Linked DNA regions of Homo sapiens: all the other regions are reported to be linked to region 1. The links are microRNA targets in miRTarBase. Many come from high-throughput screens and were not tested one by one. Region 1 holds a microRNA gene; each other region holds the end of a gene's coding sequence.
The links. The annotated mature microRNA hsa-miR-579-3p reads UUCAUUUGGUAUAAACCGCGAUU and lies in region 1 at 1,098-1,120, opposite strand. An mRNA with a match to its seed (bases 2 to 7 or 8) in the 3' UTR can be bound and repressed. Matches are read on the target gene's strand: a 7mer-m8 pairs with bases 2 to 8, a 7mer-A1 pairs with bases 2 to 7 and ends in A, and an 8mer does both.

Region 2: the mRNA of SPTY2D1 is a reported target of hsa-miR-579-3p. Seed matches in the 3' UTR shown: 7mer-m8 at 377-383.
Region 3: miRTarBase lists RO60 as a target of hsa-miR-579-3p. The part of its 3' UTR that is shown has no 7-base or 8-base seed match.
Region 4: the mRNA of UFL1 is a reported target of hsa-miR-579-3p. Seed matches in the 3' UTR shown: 7mer-A1 at 875-881, 8mer at 1,435-1,442 and 7mer-m8 at 1,915-1,921.

The regions. Positions count from the first base shown.
Region 1 is chr5:32,393,295-32,396,294 of GRCh38, forward strand. It overlaps MIR579 (microRNA 579), which reads right to left and starts at 1,181; the gene lies at 1,084-1,181. It overlaps ZFR (zinc finger RNA binding protein), which reads right to left. Exons shown (of 20, transcript NM_016107.5): 11 at 1,865-2,010.
Region 2 is chr11:18,607,026-18,610,276 of GRCh38, forward strand. SPTY2D1 (SPT2 chromatin protein domain containing 1) reads right to left here. Exons shown (of 6, transcript NM_194285.3): 6 at 1-2,929. The coding sequence ends at 2,836. It also overlaps a transcript of MISFA not described here. Among named protein-coding and RNA genes, the nearest start is that of MISFA, 8.9 kb to the left of the region's middle. RefSeq lists a silencer at 1,417-1,711.
Region 3 is chr1:193,084,344-193,087,594 of GRCh38, reverse strand. RO60 (Ro60, Y RNA binding protein) reads right to left here. Exons shown (of 9, transcript NM_001173524.2): 9 at 1-3,016. The coding sequence ends at 2,864. Among named protein-coding and RNA genes, the nearest start is that of GLRX2, 19 kb to the left of the region's middle.
Region 4 is chr6:96,553,090-96,556,340 of GRCh38, forward strand. It overlaps UFL1 (UFM1 specific ligase 1), which reads left to right. Exons shown (of 19, transcript NM_015323.5): 19 at 196-2,187. The coding sequence ends at 414. Among named protein-coding and RNA genes, the nearest start is that of FHL5, 8.4 kb to the right of the region's middle.

The DNA of each region.
Region 1 (3,000 bases):
AAATGTCATTTTAAAATGAATTAACAAATATTTAAATTTCTTAGTTTTAAATTTTTTTTTTTTTTTGAGACGGAGTTTTGTTCTTGTTGCCCAGGCTGGAGTATAATGGCGCGATCTCGCCTCACCGCAACCTCCTCTTCCCGGGTTCAAGCAATTCTCCTGCCTCAGCCTCCTGAGTAGCCGGAATTACAGGCATGCGCCACCACGCCGGCTAATTTTGTATTTTTAGTAGAGATGGGAATTTCTCCATGTTGGTCAGGCTGGTCTTGAATCCCGACCTCAGGTGATCCACCCACCTCAGCCTCCCAAAGTGTTGGGATTACAGGTATGAGCAACTGTGCCCGGCCAGTTTTAATTTTTAATACAGTAAGTCTTGACAGGTATAACCCACATAAGGACTCTTTGGAGTCCTTGATAATTGAGGATAAAGGATCCTGAGACCAAAAAGTTTGAGAACCACTGAGTTATGCTATCCAGTATAGGCAGACATGTGAGCATCCTTCAAACATTTCCATTTCCCATATTCTATTATTAGCAACTAACGATAATGTATGCAGTAATATCGCCTCAATAGGTTCACATACTTGGTGAAAGAAACAAAAAAGTGCCTCAAGGAGGGTCAAGATATTAATAACTATAATAAGGAAACACTGGAAACTACCTAAATATCTAAACAATAACAACAAGGATTGGTTATGAAGAAAATTTTACATATGCACAAAAATTACTATGTCCTCATGAAAAACAAAATAATCCGAATTTAGTTTTTAAAGTTGAAGGTATGTAAATGAAAAAAGTGGATTATGAAAATACGTGTATGGTATGTTTCTGCTAAAACTGTATTTTAAAAGTTATACAAAAATATTCACAGCAGCAATACTCATAATAGTCAAAATGTGGAAACAAGTTGCATGTCCATCAACTAATGAACGAATAAACAAAATGTGGTACATAAGGATGTATTATTCAGTATTATTTAGTCATAAAAGACAATGGAATACTGAAACATGTTACAATCTGGATGAACCATGAAAACACGCTAAGTGAACGATGCCAGACACAAAAGACCATAGACTGTAGTAAGTTGATGCAAAAATAATCGCGGTTTATACCAAATGAATTTATTAATTCAAATCGTCATCTGGCACAAACCGCGATTACTTTTGCATTAACCTAATATGACTCCATTTATATGAAATCTCTAGAATAGGCAAATCTATAGAGACAGAAAGGTTAGAGGTTGTCCAGGGCTGGGGCTGGGGGAGATACTAGGTATGTGGGACACATGGGGAATTATTGTTAATGGGTACGTGATTTCTTTTGAGGGTGATGAACTGTTCTAAATTGATTGTGGTGATTGTTACACAACTCTGTCACTGTATAAGTTTAGAAGATATGTTATATTTCAATAAAACTTAACATTTGTATCTTTATATATATATAAACAAATATTTGAAATATGTTTTCTCAATTCTCCTTCCCTGTAGCCACTAAAGTTTCTTTATGGACATTATTAACATGTAGAATCTATCAAATCTTATACTTCTATCAGGAAATGTATGTCTATTTTGCTTGTTTGAAACCGAGGCACTTATTTATAATATGAAACTATTTCTTCATATGTTTAATTTATAAAAGATGCCACTTAAACATATAACTCTAATACCAAGGCCACAGTAAAATATTAGTATAGCCAGTAACAATTTTAATGCATGTCTTTCCTAGACCTAGGATCTTCCTCAAGAGTGAAAATTGGAAGTAAATAAATCTGGATTGCTTTGAATGGGAGTCACATGCTCAGAATGGCTAAGTTTTTAAGAAAGGCTGAACCACTTACCAGGCTATTAAAAGTTAAAGATATTACCTCATTTCCATTCTCCAACGCTCCTCTTCTTCTCGTCTTCGCCAGTACTCCTCCTTCTGCATTTGCTTCCTCATTTTCTCTTCTTGAATCTTTCTTGCTCGAATACTAGGCTTTACTTCTACTTGCAAATCTGGATTTACTTTTTTCTATTAATATAAATAAGACATTTAAAAAACAGCAGCCCCAAAACAATCTACATGTATTTTTAATCATACAATTACACTTATTCTTTAATCACGGAGGCTTTTAGTTGCAAGTTTCCCACTAGAGAGTAAAATCAATATAATTAAGGTAAATCAGAGAAAAGATTCAAAATACATTAATAAAAATTATGTAAAAAGTATGTAACTTAGTGCTGACCAACAAAAAGTCATGAAATCCTTAGAAAAACTAATGGATATTTAATTTTACTTTACATTTGACCCTTGAACAACAGGGGTTTGAAGTATATGAATACACTTACATCTATGCTGCTGAGTTTCTTCTCCCTCTGCCACCCCTGAGAGAGTAAGACCAACCCCTCCTCTTCTTCCTCAGCCTACTCAACTTGAAGATGATGAGGATGAAGACCTTTATATGATGACCCACTTCCACTTAATGAATAGTAAATATTTTGATTTTCATATTTTCTCAATAATATTTTCTCTTCTCTAGCTTACTTTATTCTAAGAATACAGTATATATGAGATACATGACATACCAAAAATGTGTTAACATAAAAATAACTGTTTATGTTATCAGTAAGGCTTCTGGTCATTAGTAGGCTTTTAGAAGTTTTTAGGGAGTCAAAAGTTATAAGCAGCCTGGAGTCCCAGCACTTTGGGAGGCCAAGGAAGGCAGATCACTTGAGGCCAGGAGTTTCAGACTAGCCCGGCCAACATGGTGAAACGTTCTCTAGAAAAATACAAAAGCTAGCCAGGCATGGTGGCACATGCCTGTAGTCCCAGTTACTTGGGAGGCTGCGGTGGGAGGATCACTGGAGCCCGGGAGGTTGCAGTGAGCCATGTTCATGTCATCGTACTCCAGCCTGGGCAACAGAGCAAGGCCCTATCTCAAAAAAAAAAAAAAGGCAGGCAAATTTTTGACTGCGTGAGGGGCCCCTGACCTCCATGTTGTTCAAGGGTCAACTGTAACTG
Region 2 (3,251 bases), not on the chromosome of region 1:
AATTTTTTTATTTTTAGTAGAGACGGGGTCTCACACCATGTTGGCCAGGCTGGTCTCGAACTCCTGGTCTCAAGTGATCCGCCCGCCTCGGCCTCCCAAAGTGCTGGGATTACAGGCTTGAGCCACCATGCCCGGCCAGACTTACTTTTTTGTTAACGGTCTTTGAACCTTTTCACGGCACACATGTAAGGCCGCCTGTGACATGTGGTACCCTGGCCTCCAACTGGACACAACTGCATTTATAGTTTAGCGAAAATACAAAGTTCTGAAAGTAGCCTTAAAAGAAGTGCCCTTTGCTTTGACATAGCAATATCAAAAGCAAGTGGGACTGTGCAATCAGAGCCATGAGTTTTATGAAAACTACTTTCCTTTCACATCATTTGTTAGAGAATGCCACACCCATGATCATGTAACATTATTACAATCATGAAATATTACTACATTCGTGATTAACATTACCCAAAAGGCACATCTTCAAATGTTGAATTAAGAAAATCCAAAAATCAAAACAGTAGAGAATACATTAAAAATCAAGCATTTAATTTGTAAACCTTAATGAAATAACAGCCTACTCCAGTTTCTTCAAAGGTTTGTGAGCTTTTTATAAGAGTGGTCAGGAAGTGCAGAAAAACAACATGGAAGACAGGATTTGGAAACAAGGCCAAAATTTAAAAGACTTAACCTTTTTTTTCTTTTAAATGAGCCACAGAAGTGCTCTTTTATAATGTTGACGCAAATCAACATTTATATTATAGAAATGCACTCAGAAGTAACAGACACACAAGGTTAAAACCTGATTCTTCCCACTAAGTTCTGGAAATTTATTCTAACATAATGGTGCCTTTCTGTACAAAGAACTGTACCATATCATAAATTTACTGCTAGTAAACTTTAAGCCACCAGAAATCTTTCAGCTGTGACAAGCACTTGATTGTAATGACAGATTTCAGAGTCTGAATACTGAAAAATATATATATCCAATAAAAAATTTTTGAAGGGGGAATAAAAGCACATAAATGGCAGCAGAGGAATTGATGTTCTAAGCCTGTTTTATTACATGGGACATCACACTACCCTTAATTTCACTGAAGGTATCTGAAATGGGTGAGATGAAATCAATAGGATTTTCTGCTACCATTGTAACAGTTCTATATGTAGTTACAAAGGGTGTTATTCCTAGTGATGATGACACCTTTCATGGGATTCAACTTAAAAATTAAATCCTTGCACTTTCAAAGTTTGAAACTCAATTCAAAATGAGTCCGTCTTAAAAGCCTGGCTCATATGGTCCCATTAAGGGAGGCTAACAATGGTAATCTATAATACCCAAACTTGAAGAATAAAGACTTTATGGATAAAAAGGAATAAACCAAAATATTTGGGCTGTTGAAGTATAAGGGCCTGTTGTAGGACAATCCCTCCTACTTCCTAATCCCCCCCATACAATGGCTTAAGATAGCCAAAACGTTTATTGTAGAACGTTTATTATTCCTACAAGCTTATGTCTCACTTCCCCTAAGCCTCTGTACTTACAGTCAAGGACAAATGCTCTCTAGCATCATATCTCATTTTCTGTTGCTGACAGTTCTTGAGACTTGGCTTCCTTCCAGCATGATCCTAAGTCAGCCTGATTGGAACTGCTTGGACTTGAAGGTTAAGGGCTATTAAGTCCATATTTATGACTTTAAAAAGGGTAAAAATGAGTTTCCACAGCTCAGTAAAATAACGATAACAGGGAACATCCCTTCCTACCTGGGGAAAAAAATCTCTTCACAGTGCATAGTTTGAAATCAAAGTGCAATATGGGCAAAAAGAGAAGGTGGTGCTCTCGATACCATAAATTTAGTTTTTGGTTTTCTGCCATTAATATTTGCTAACAAATTCAAGCTAAAAAATGAAGTCATTAATGTCAAGAGGTATGAGGGCACCTTGGGATTTCAAAATATCTTTATGATGGGGGAGGGGAGGAGGGGAGAGCCTCACATGTTACTTCCTTATTTTATAAACTATTACTCTTTCAAATCTAATGTTTGAATAAAATATTTTTTCTTCGATATAAAAATGAATTTTTTTAGATAAAAATCAATCAGCACAGTGACCTTGTCTTACACTAAAGCCAACATAACAGTAAATCTGAAAGGAAAACTTAGAAAAGAATATTATACTGTTATAACCTGTATTTTAACTTGAAAATTTTTTCATTAATTCCTAGCCACCTAAATTAATGAGTAAGAATGCTCAGCATCCAATCCATGAATACAGAATTTATTCTACTTTGTACTTCAAAGTCACAGGATGACATCCATATGATAGTTATAAATTCTACTCTACATTTTCAAGTTCTCAATCCATAGATTAGGACAAGTCACTTTATTGCTGGCAACATTCATGGAAGGTCCAGGTTTCTCATAAAAAGACTAAGTTTGATTGGGAGCAGGGCAGTGCCCTACTCACAGATCAGCAGAAGAATTACAGAAATCAAGAGACAACCTTTTTTTTCCTTTCAAAGTAGCAAAGGAACAATAAAAGATTGGCTGACTGGTGAGTGGCCCCACATTAGAGTGCATAGCTCATCAGGATCAAGGCTGGCATCTGTGAACAGTTAACTTCATAAGAGCACAAGTGGGCATTATATCATCTGCATTACAGATTTCACCCTGGAAAATATCTGAAAATATTTTATGCTCAAATGACAGCCTGCAAATGACAGTATGCATTCCTTCTCCTTGAGTACCCAAGTATAAATCTAAAATGATAAGGGGGCTTCTTCAGTCTGAAGGCAGGAAATCCTTGCAGCAGAGCAGCTCTAGAATTTCACAAAAATAAAAGCAGCAGCTAACGCCTCTTCAGCTTCTTGGCCCTTCGACGTTGCATTTCTTCTTCTTCACGTCTCATTTCCTCTAAGTCCTCTTGCATACCCAGTCTTAAGCTGCCAAAGAATTTTTAAAGGGTATTTGTCAATATACATGAGATGACCACTTTCCTTAAAAAGAATGAAAATTCCAACTGGGAGCTCACATGGATTGTGCTGATGCTCTCAAAATGCCTCAAGGCTTTACCACTGAAAACAAACTAGCAGGGATATTTTTTTACCAGGGGCCACAGACTCAAATTGTCGTGGGAAAAAGAACTCACACACCACAAAAACCTTACTATTTCCATTAAAATAATAAAATATAGGTTTATCTCAATAGCTTTTAAAAATAAACAGCAAGAAGCATTTATTCATTAACTAACATTCTATTCTTGTT
Region 3 (3,251 bases), not on the chromosome of region 1:
CAGTAAGTTAGATAAAGCAAAGGAGGTGTCAAAGGGTAACACTAAATTCCATTCACTAGCATCTTGCCTCACTAACACTCTCATAAGATAGATTACTAAATAATATAAGTATTAATAAATGGAATTTCCAAGAACTTTCAACTAATAAAGGGTGGGATTATAAGATTAGTTTTTGTTTTACTAATTACAACTATATCCTGGAACTATTTACATACTACCTAGGAAATAAAGTTTGTTTATTCTTGCAGGATTGTTTTTAAAAGCAGTATTTTCCCAAATATTAATTTAACAGTAATCCTAAAAGTAACTCAGGAAATAAAAAACTTATCACTTCAGTACATTTTATTCATAATGAGGTAAAGTTTTTGTTTTTTCTCTATATATGTAGATATATATAGCAACACAGGTTAATTGTGCTTGAGGATTCCTATGAATTACAAGATTATACATGTTCCCATTCTATTTTTCTACTCCTAAAGCAATCGTATATACATTATTTCCTAATAACTCAATAAGGTAAAAGTCTTAAATAATTTTATTTTATCCTCTACTCTTCTGAGACCATGTATTCCCATGTTGTGGGGAAATAAATTCTGGCACAGGAATGAAGAGACCAAGATTTCTAGGTTATAGTACTTCAAAATCACACTCTGTCTTGGACCTCAGCTCTCTAACAAAAATTTAAAAAATTAGCTTTTAGGTTTCTAAGGTTTCTTCCAGCTCAAATATGCCATGATTTGAAAAGTTACCTTCTGTGGTAGCTTCTCCTACTTATCCTTTCTTTCTTAAATGTTACCCTAGTCCATTTAATTAGACCTACCTAAATACTTCAGAAAGGTCATATCCATCCAATCTTGTATCCTTGATGGATTTAATATTAACTTATAGATATATTTGTCTAAAAGTATTATGGAAATAGTACACAACTGAAGGTAATGCACTTTTGTACTATATTCTATTTAACATTTCTATTAGGAATAAAATGATCATGTTATAATTTTTAAGATCTTGGGTTTACTTAAACAATTCAATAACTATTACGTAATTCTATTAGTTTCTTTAAACTTTAAATTCAATCTGAACGTAATATTTTAATGTGTCAAAAGTAGCTAATATATTCAGTTCAATGCTTGACAGGGTTAAAAACGTGAACAACATCAGAAGCAATGCATGTCTGGAGTGGGGGTGAGGGTGCTATGAGCTTTGCTGAACAAAAATATCTCAGGTAAATCACACTTAAAAACTGATACCAGTTGCCTTGAAGGAATGGGTACATATCAAAACCAGCATTAATATGTCAAATAAATTTGAAAGGAATATTTTCTTATTCCCAGAGCCCAAATTTCACATAAAACAGAAGAAAATATGTACAGAAATCCTCAGACTACTAAAGTCCCCCTTTCCCAAAAAACATAAACCCTCTAACCCCCAAGCACCTAAAAGGCTATAATTTACATTAACTACAGTTTGACTTTTCACATAACAGCGAGAAGGACCTTACAAATCCTCAGTAAATCTTCAATTAATATTTAGAGAACAACAGATACGCAAACAGGTTTTATGTGTAAGCTACCTTAGACGGCCATAATAAAATTATGAGCAAAGATAATGGCATTTCAACAGATTGCTTTAATGTTAAACCTCACAATGAAGGATACTTGCTCAATAAAATAATGCACTTTAGTGTAATGAAAAGTTTAATACATACAAATAATACTGAAAAAAATTCCTAGTGACTGGCTAGCTGGTAATATGCTACTCAAAAATTGCCTTTCAAACCTAAAGGACCTAGATTGCTTTATTATTTGTTTACACTATCAAAGAAGAATATTTTGCCACAAAATGAATAATGGACAAAGAGGCCATTGACATGTATACTTTTAAAAATATTAACTAAAAAAATAGTTAAAAGTAAAAAATTTTATTTTAAAAGTAAGGAAAAAGCTAAACTGGTTATAGTTGAGATTTTAATTGTTATACTTTGTGAATGAGGGGGAGTTAAGCGCTTGAAACATTTTATATTATTTACACTTAAGAGTATGAAAAACAGTGTGAGACTACATCTGGCTATGTTATTATAATTCAGAGGAAATCATTATCAAGTCACACCCCTTGTAGCAATAAAATATAACAAAGCAAAAAAAAAAAAGCAAACCAAATAGAATCCCTCAGCCAACACAAACTTAGTCTATTCTTAGGGGTTGCCATGATGTTTCTGATTAATGGTAACATATTCCACAAGTGCAAATAAAACATCAGAAATAAAATATCTTTTTCACTGAATAAGAAAGCTGTTATTTGTGTGATCTTAGTAAAACTCTGAAAGGAATTTGTAAAACTCATTCATAATTTAATCAAATGCCTTAGTTTTTTTTTTTACCCCCTTGGTATAAAAGTTTACAGATGAGTTTCATATTTCATCACAGTTATATGGTCTAGTGCATTTCAGAGTATTTGGACATTATCAAAGCTGTCCTTTCCCAATGAAAACATTTAAGAAAACGTTAAGCACTTCTCAAGTAACATGATGTGGAATTACACTTTTTGCTCTTACCTCTTTTAGGTACACACGTATTATTCAACAAAGCAAAACTATTTTACAGTGTCTGTTAACAAAAAGTTCTCTATTAGATAGAGGAAACTACAGTATCCTGAAGCTATTTCCCCAAGAGCTAGTTTAGTAGATAGACCTTTGGGCCCATCTTATTTTTCCTTCTTTTTTTTTTTTCAGTAAGGTAACTTTCCATTATGCACATACTATACCATCATCATTCATTGGGTGGAGATTAGCTGGGAAGTAGCTGTATATTTTTAGTGAGATCACTGATGGCAATGGATCTCTGGATCGTGCTGCTGCTTATGGTTAAATCATATCTAATGTGAAATTTCGAATTACATCCAGAGCTCCAGTATCAAAGCCGCACATATCCAACATGCCTCTATCATCTGGGTCTGCAATGGTGAAACCATTTGATGTCATTCCACAAACAATCAATTTAGCTGGAATATCCATTTTCTGTAGAAAAAGACCAAAATACATATTAAAAACATAAATGTAAGGAAATGCAAAATACCTCCAAAATTAAAACACTTTAACATTTCTCTACCAGAGCTTTTTAAATACAAAGTCATTTTTTTGCGGGGGTCAATCTTTTAAGGCTAGAATATGGGAGTTTTAGAAGAAGGGACAATAAAATTGTATAAGAATCTGCCTGAAATTTCTACTTCTCTCTTCAATTACTTTACTTGTT
Region 4 (3,251 bases), not on the chromosome of region 1:
TTTGCATTCATGTTTTATCTCTCCTAAATTGTACACTCCTTGAGAGCAGAAACTGCTAGATTAGACTTGCTACTTACATGGCCAGTTTTTTGTAAAGATGAGGACCTTCAATGTGTATTAGTTGAAGAAATTCTACTTTATCTGTTCCACAAAAAGATAAATTGTGTTGATTAACTTTTCTTTCCCTTTTCACAGGATCAGCATGCTCTTTTGGTAAAGTATCAAGGTTTGGTTGTAAAGCAGCTAGTCAGTCAAAGTAAGAAGACTGGGCAGGGAGATTATCCCTTGAATAATGAATTAGACAAAGAACAAGAAGATGTTGCCAGTACTACTCGTAAAGAGCTTCAAGAACTTTCTTCATCCATTAAAGACCTTGTTCTCAAATCTAGGAAATCATCTGTGACGGAAGAGTAATGATCTTAATTTACATTTGTCATATAGTAAGCATTTTCCCCCAAGGTTGAAGGTGAGTGGTCACAAAAAAGTAGTCACTATACAACTCCCCTCTCCCTGCAAAAACCACCTCATACACACACAATTCAGTTAAAACAGTAGTATTGTATTAAATGTAAATCTTAAAAAGATGTGAATTTTTGTAAATTGGGTTCTTCATGGAAGTTTTTTTCCACCTGATTTTCACACAAATACTATATGAAATTTTTCACATTATTTTCACATAATTTTAAAAATTACATATTTCAGGTTTGTTCTCTTTCCAAATGTTGAATGAAAAACAAATTTTCCAATCCATTTATCCCTGGGGAAGGATTCATTTGTTGCGAGTGCCAGTATACTTAAATGTATACTTTATATACATTTAAGCAGAAATTTAAAATGTGGTCTTTTTTTTTTAAAAGAAACACTTCTGTGTCAGAAATGAAAATAAATCATGTTTTTTATTTTTAAATAGAAAGCACTTCAAAACTAAAATACAGAAATTTACAAAAAAGAAAAATTATTACTAAGCCCTTGCTCTTATTTTTGGCAGAATAAACATTGATTTTGGTTGGGGCTGCAAGGATGCCTTTACAGGTGCACAAGAACGCTAGAGTGGCCCATGCATTGCTGTGTTCTCTTCTAAAACAAGCTACTAACAAGAGAGAGAACACATGCAATTTATTACCAGTAAGCATAAGTCATATTTAACATTGGAATAACTAAGCATTTTATACAAAGATTTTTCTTTGACCCAGTTTGCATTTGTACATTTTATTTTTTTAGTTCAACAGCTGCTCTGTCACATAATACTTTGTAAATACTAGTGTGAAAAACAGATAGGATGCCTTTTCCAGTGGTAGGAGCATCTGTAAGTGCATTTAAATCATTAGAAGCTTTTTTCCAAAACTAGAAACCCTTATTAAAAAATAGACATTTTTTTCTAAAGATTATTAGTTAAAAATAACTAAAAGAGTTCCTTAGAGTAATCATTTCAACCAAATGAATTTCAAGCAACAACTTACTTACTATTTATCAAAAAGGGATTTAATTATTTTGAATATAATTATAAATTAAATTTCAAATATTTAAAAATACTATTTTATATAATTCCTTATGACATTTTAAACTTTATATTTTAAAATATTTGAATACGAAAAGATCAGTCTACCTCTACTCCATTCTAGACAAAGTATTAATCCTTAGTGAAAGTAATTAATTAAATTGCCAACTTGGCATTATTATTAAACTTGATAGGAACGCAACATTAAATTTAAAAATGTTTTCCCGTGGGTAATTTTCTATTATATATTTTCATATGGGCAAAGGGAAAAAATGATAAATCCTCTGTAATCACAAACCCCAATTTCGTTTTGTTTATTCAGCTTCTAAAATATTGAACACCCAGACTTTTAATTCAACCTTTAAGAACCTTATCATTTATGTTTCAGTAGATATCAAAGTAATCCATGTTTGTGTCAAATGATCATAGAAAATAAATAGAAGAGACAGTGAAGCAAGTAAAAAGAAAAGCATTGTTTTAATTTGTTTGCATTAATTTTTTTCATTTGTCAAAATGCTTCTTTTGTTGCCACAGTAAAGAACAGTTTTTATTGTTTTGTAAGTAAAATTACGTAGCTGATTTTGTATGTAAAGATTAATTTCCATAATAAAAATTATTGTATGTTTACTGTGATCTTAATGGGCAGGGTTAAGAAAGTTATTTAAAATAAAGTTACCTATTCTACTAAATTTTATAGTACTTTGAAGCTTCTATTAATTAACACAAAGATTAATTGGTGCATATATTTTATATATATACATTTTGAATTCTCATTTTGAACATTATTAAAGGATTTTATTTTTCTTACACAAAAATAGTTCCAGAGCTCTCAGTGTCTTTCATTCCTTGAGAGTTTGCCATTCTCAAACCATTTTATCTTAGTAAATTATTTCTCAATTAACTAGATTTCAGCAAATGTGTAGCTGTATTCTTGCATATGCTAATTCCTGCTATTGCAGTCGGGGTAGAAATATTGGAAAATGTGCTCAGGTATTCATGTTCATGTGTTCCAGCTCTAGACTTACTTATGTGCTTTTCAAGAGTTAAGGAAACTCTTGGCCATCAGAAAGATCCGATGAAGAGTGGCATATAGTATCAAAATCACAGTGTATTTTGTGAAAAGACCTTAATGCTAAATTAGGACAATAAATGTAATAGTTGCTTAACCTGAATGTATTATTAGAGAAATGCTTTACTTAGACCAAAAAGCACCATGGATAAGGTCAGGGTGCAATGGTGATCTGAAGCTGGAATCAGACTGAAAAGGAACAGTTCATTCCTTCCTCAGAAATGTCACTAGAACCAGAGTGTATTAGTCCGTTTTCACGCTGCTAATAAAGACTACCCGAGACTGGGCAATTTACAAAAGAAAGAGGTTTATTGGACTTAAATTTCCATGTGGCTGGAGAGGCCTCACAATCATGGCAGAAGGTAAAAGGCAATGTCTCACATGATGCCAGACAAGGGAAGAGGAGCTTGTGCAGGGAAACTCCCCCTTTTAAATTCATCAGATCTCATGAGACTCATTCACTATCAAGAGAACAGAGCAGGAAAGACCTGCCCCCATAATTCAATCACCTCCCACCCTGTTCTTCCCATGACACGTAGGAATTGTGGGAGTCAGAATTCAAGATGAGATTTGAATGGGGACACAGCCAAAACATATCGTTCCATCCCTGGCCCCTCCCAAATCTCATGTCCTCACATTTCAAAACCAATCAATCATGCCTTCCCGACAGTCCCCAAAATCTTA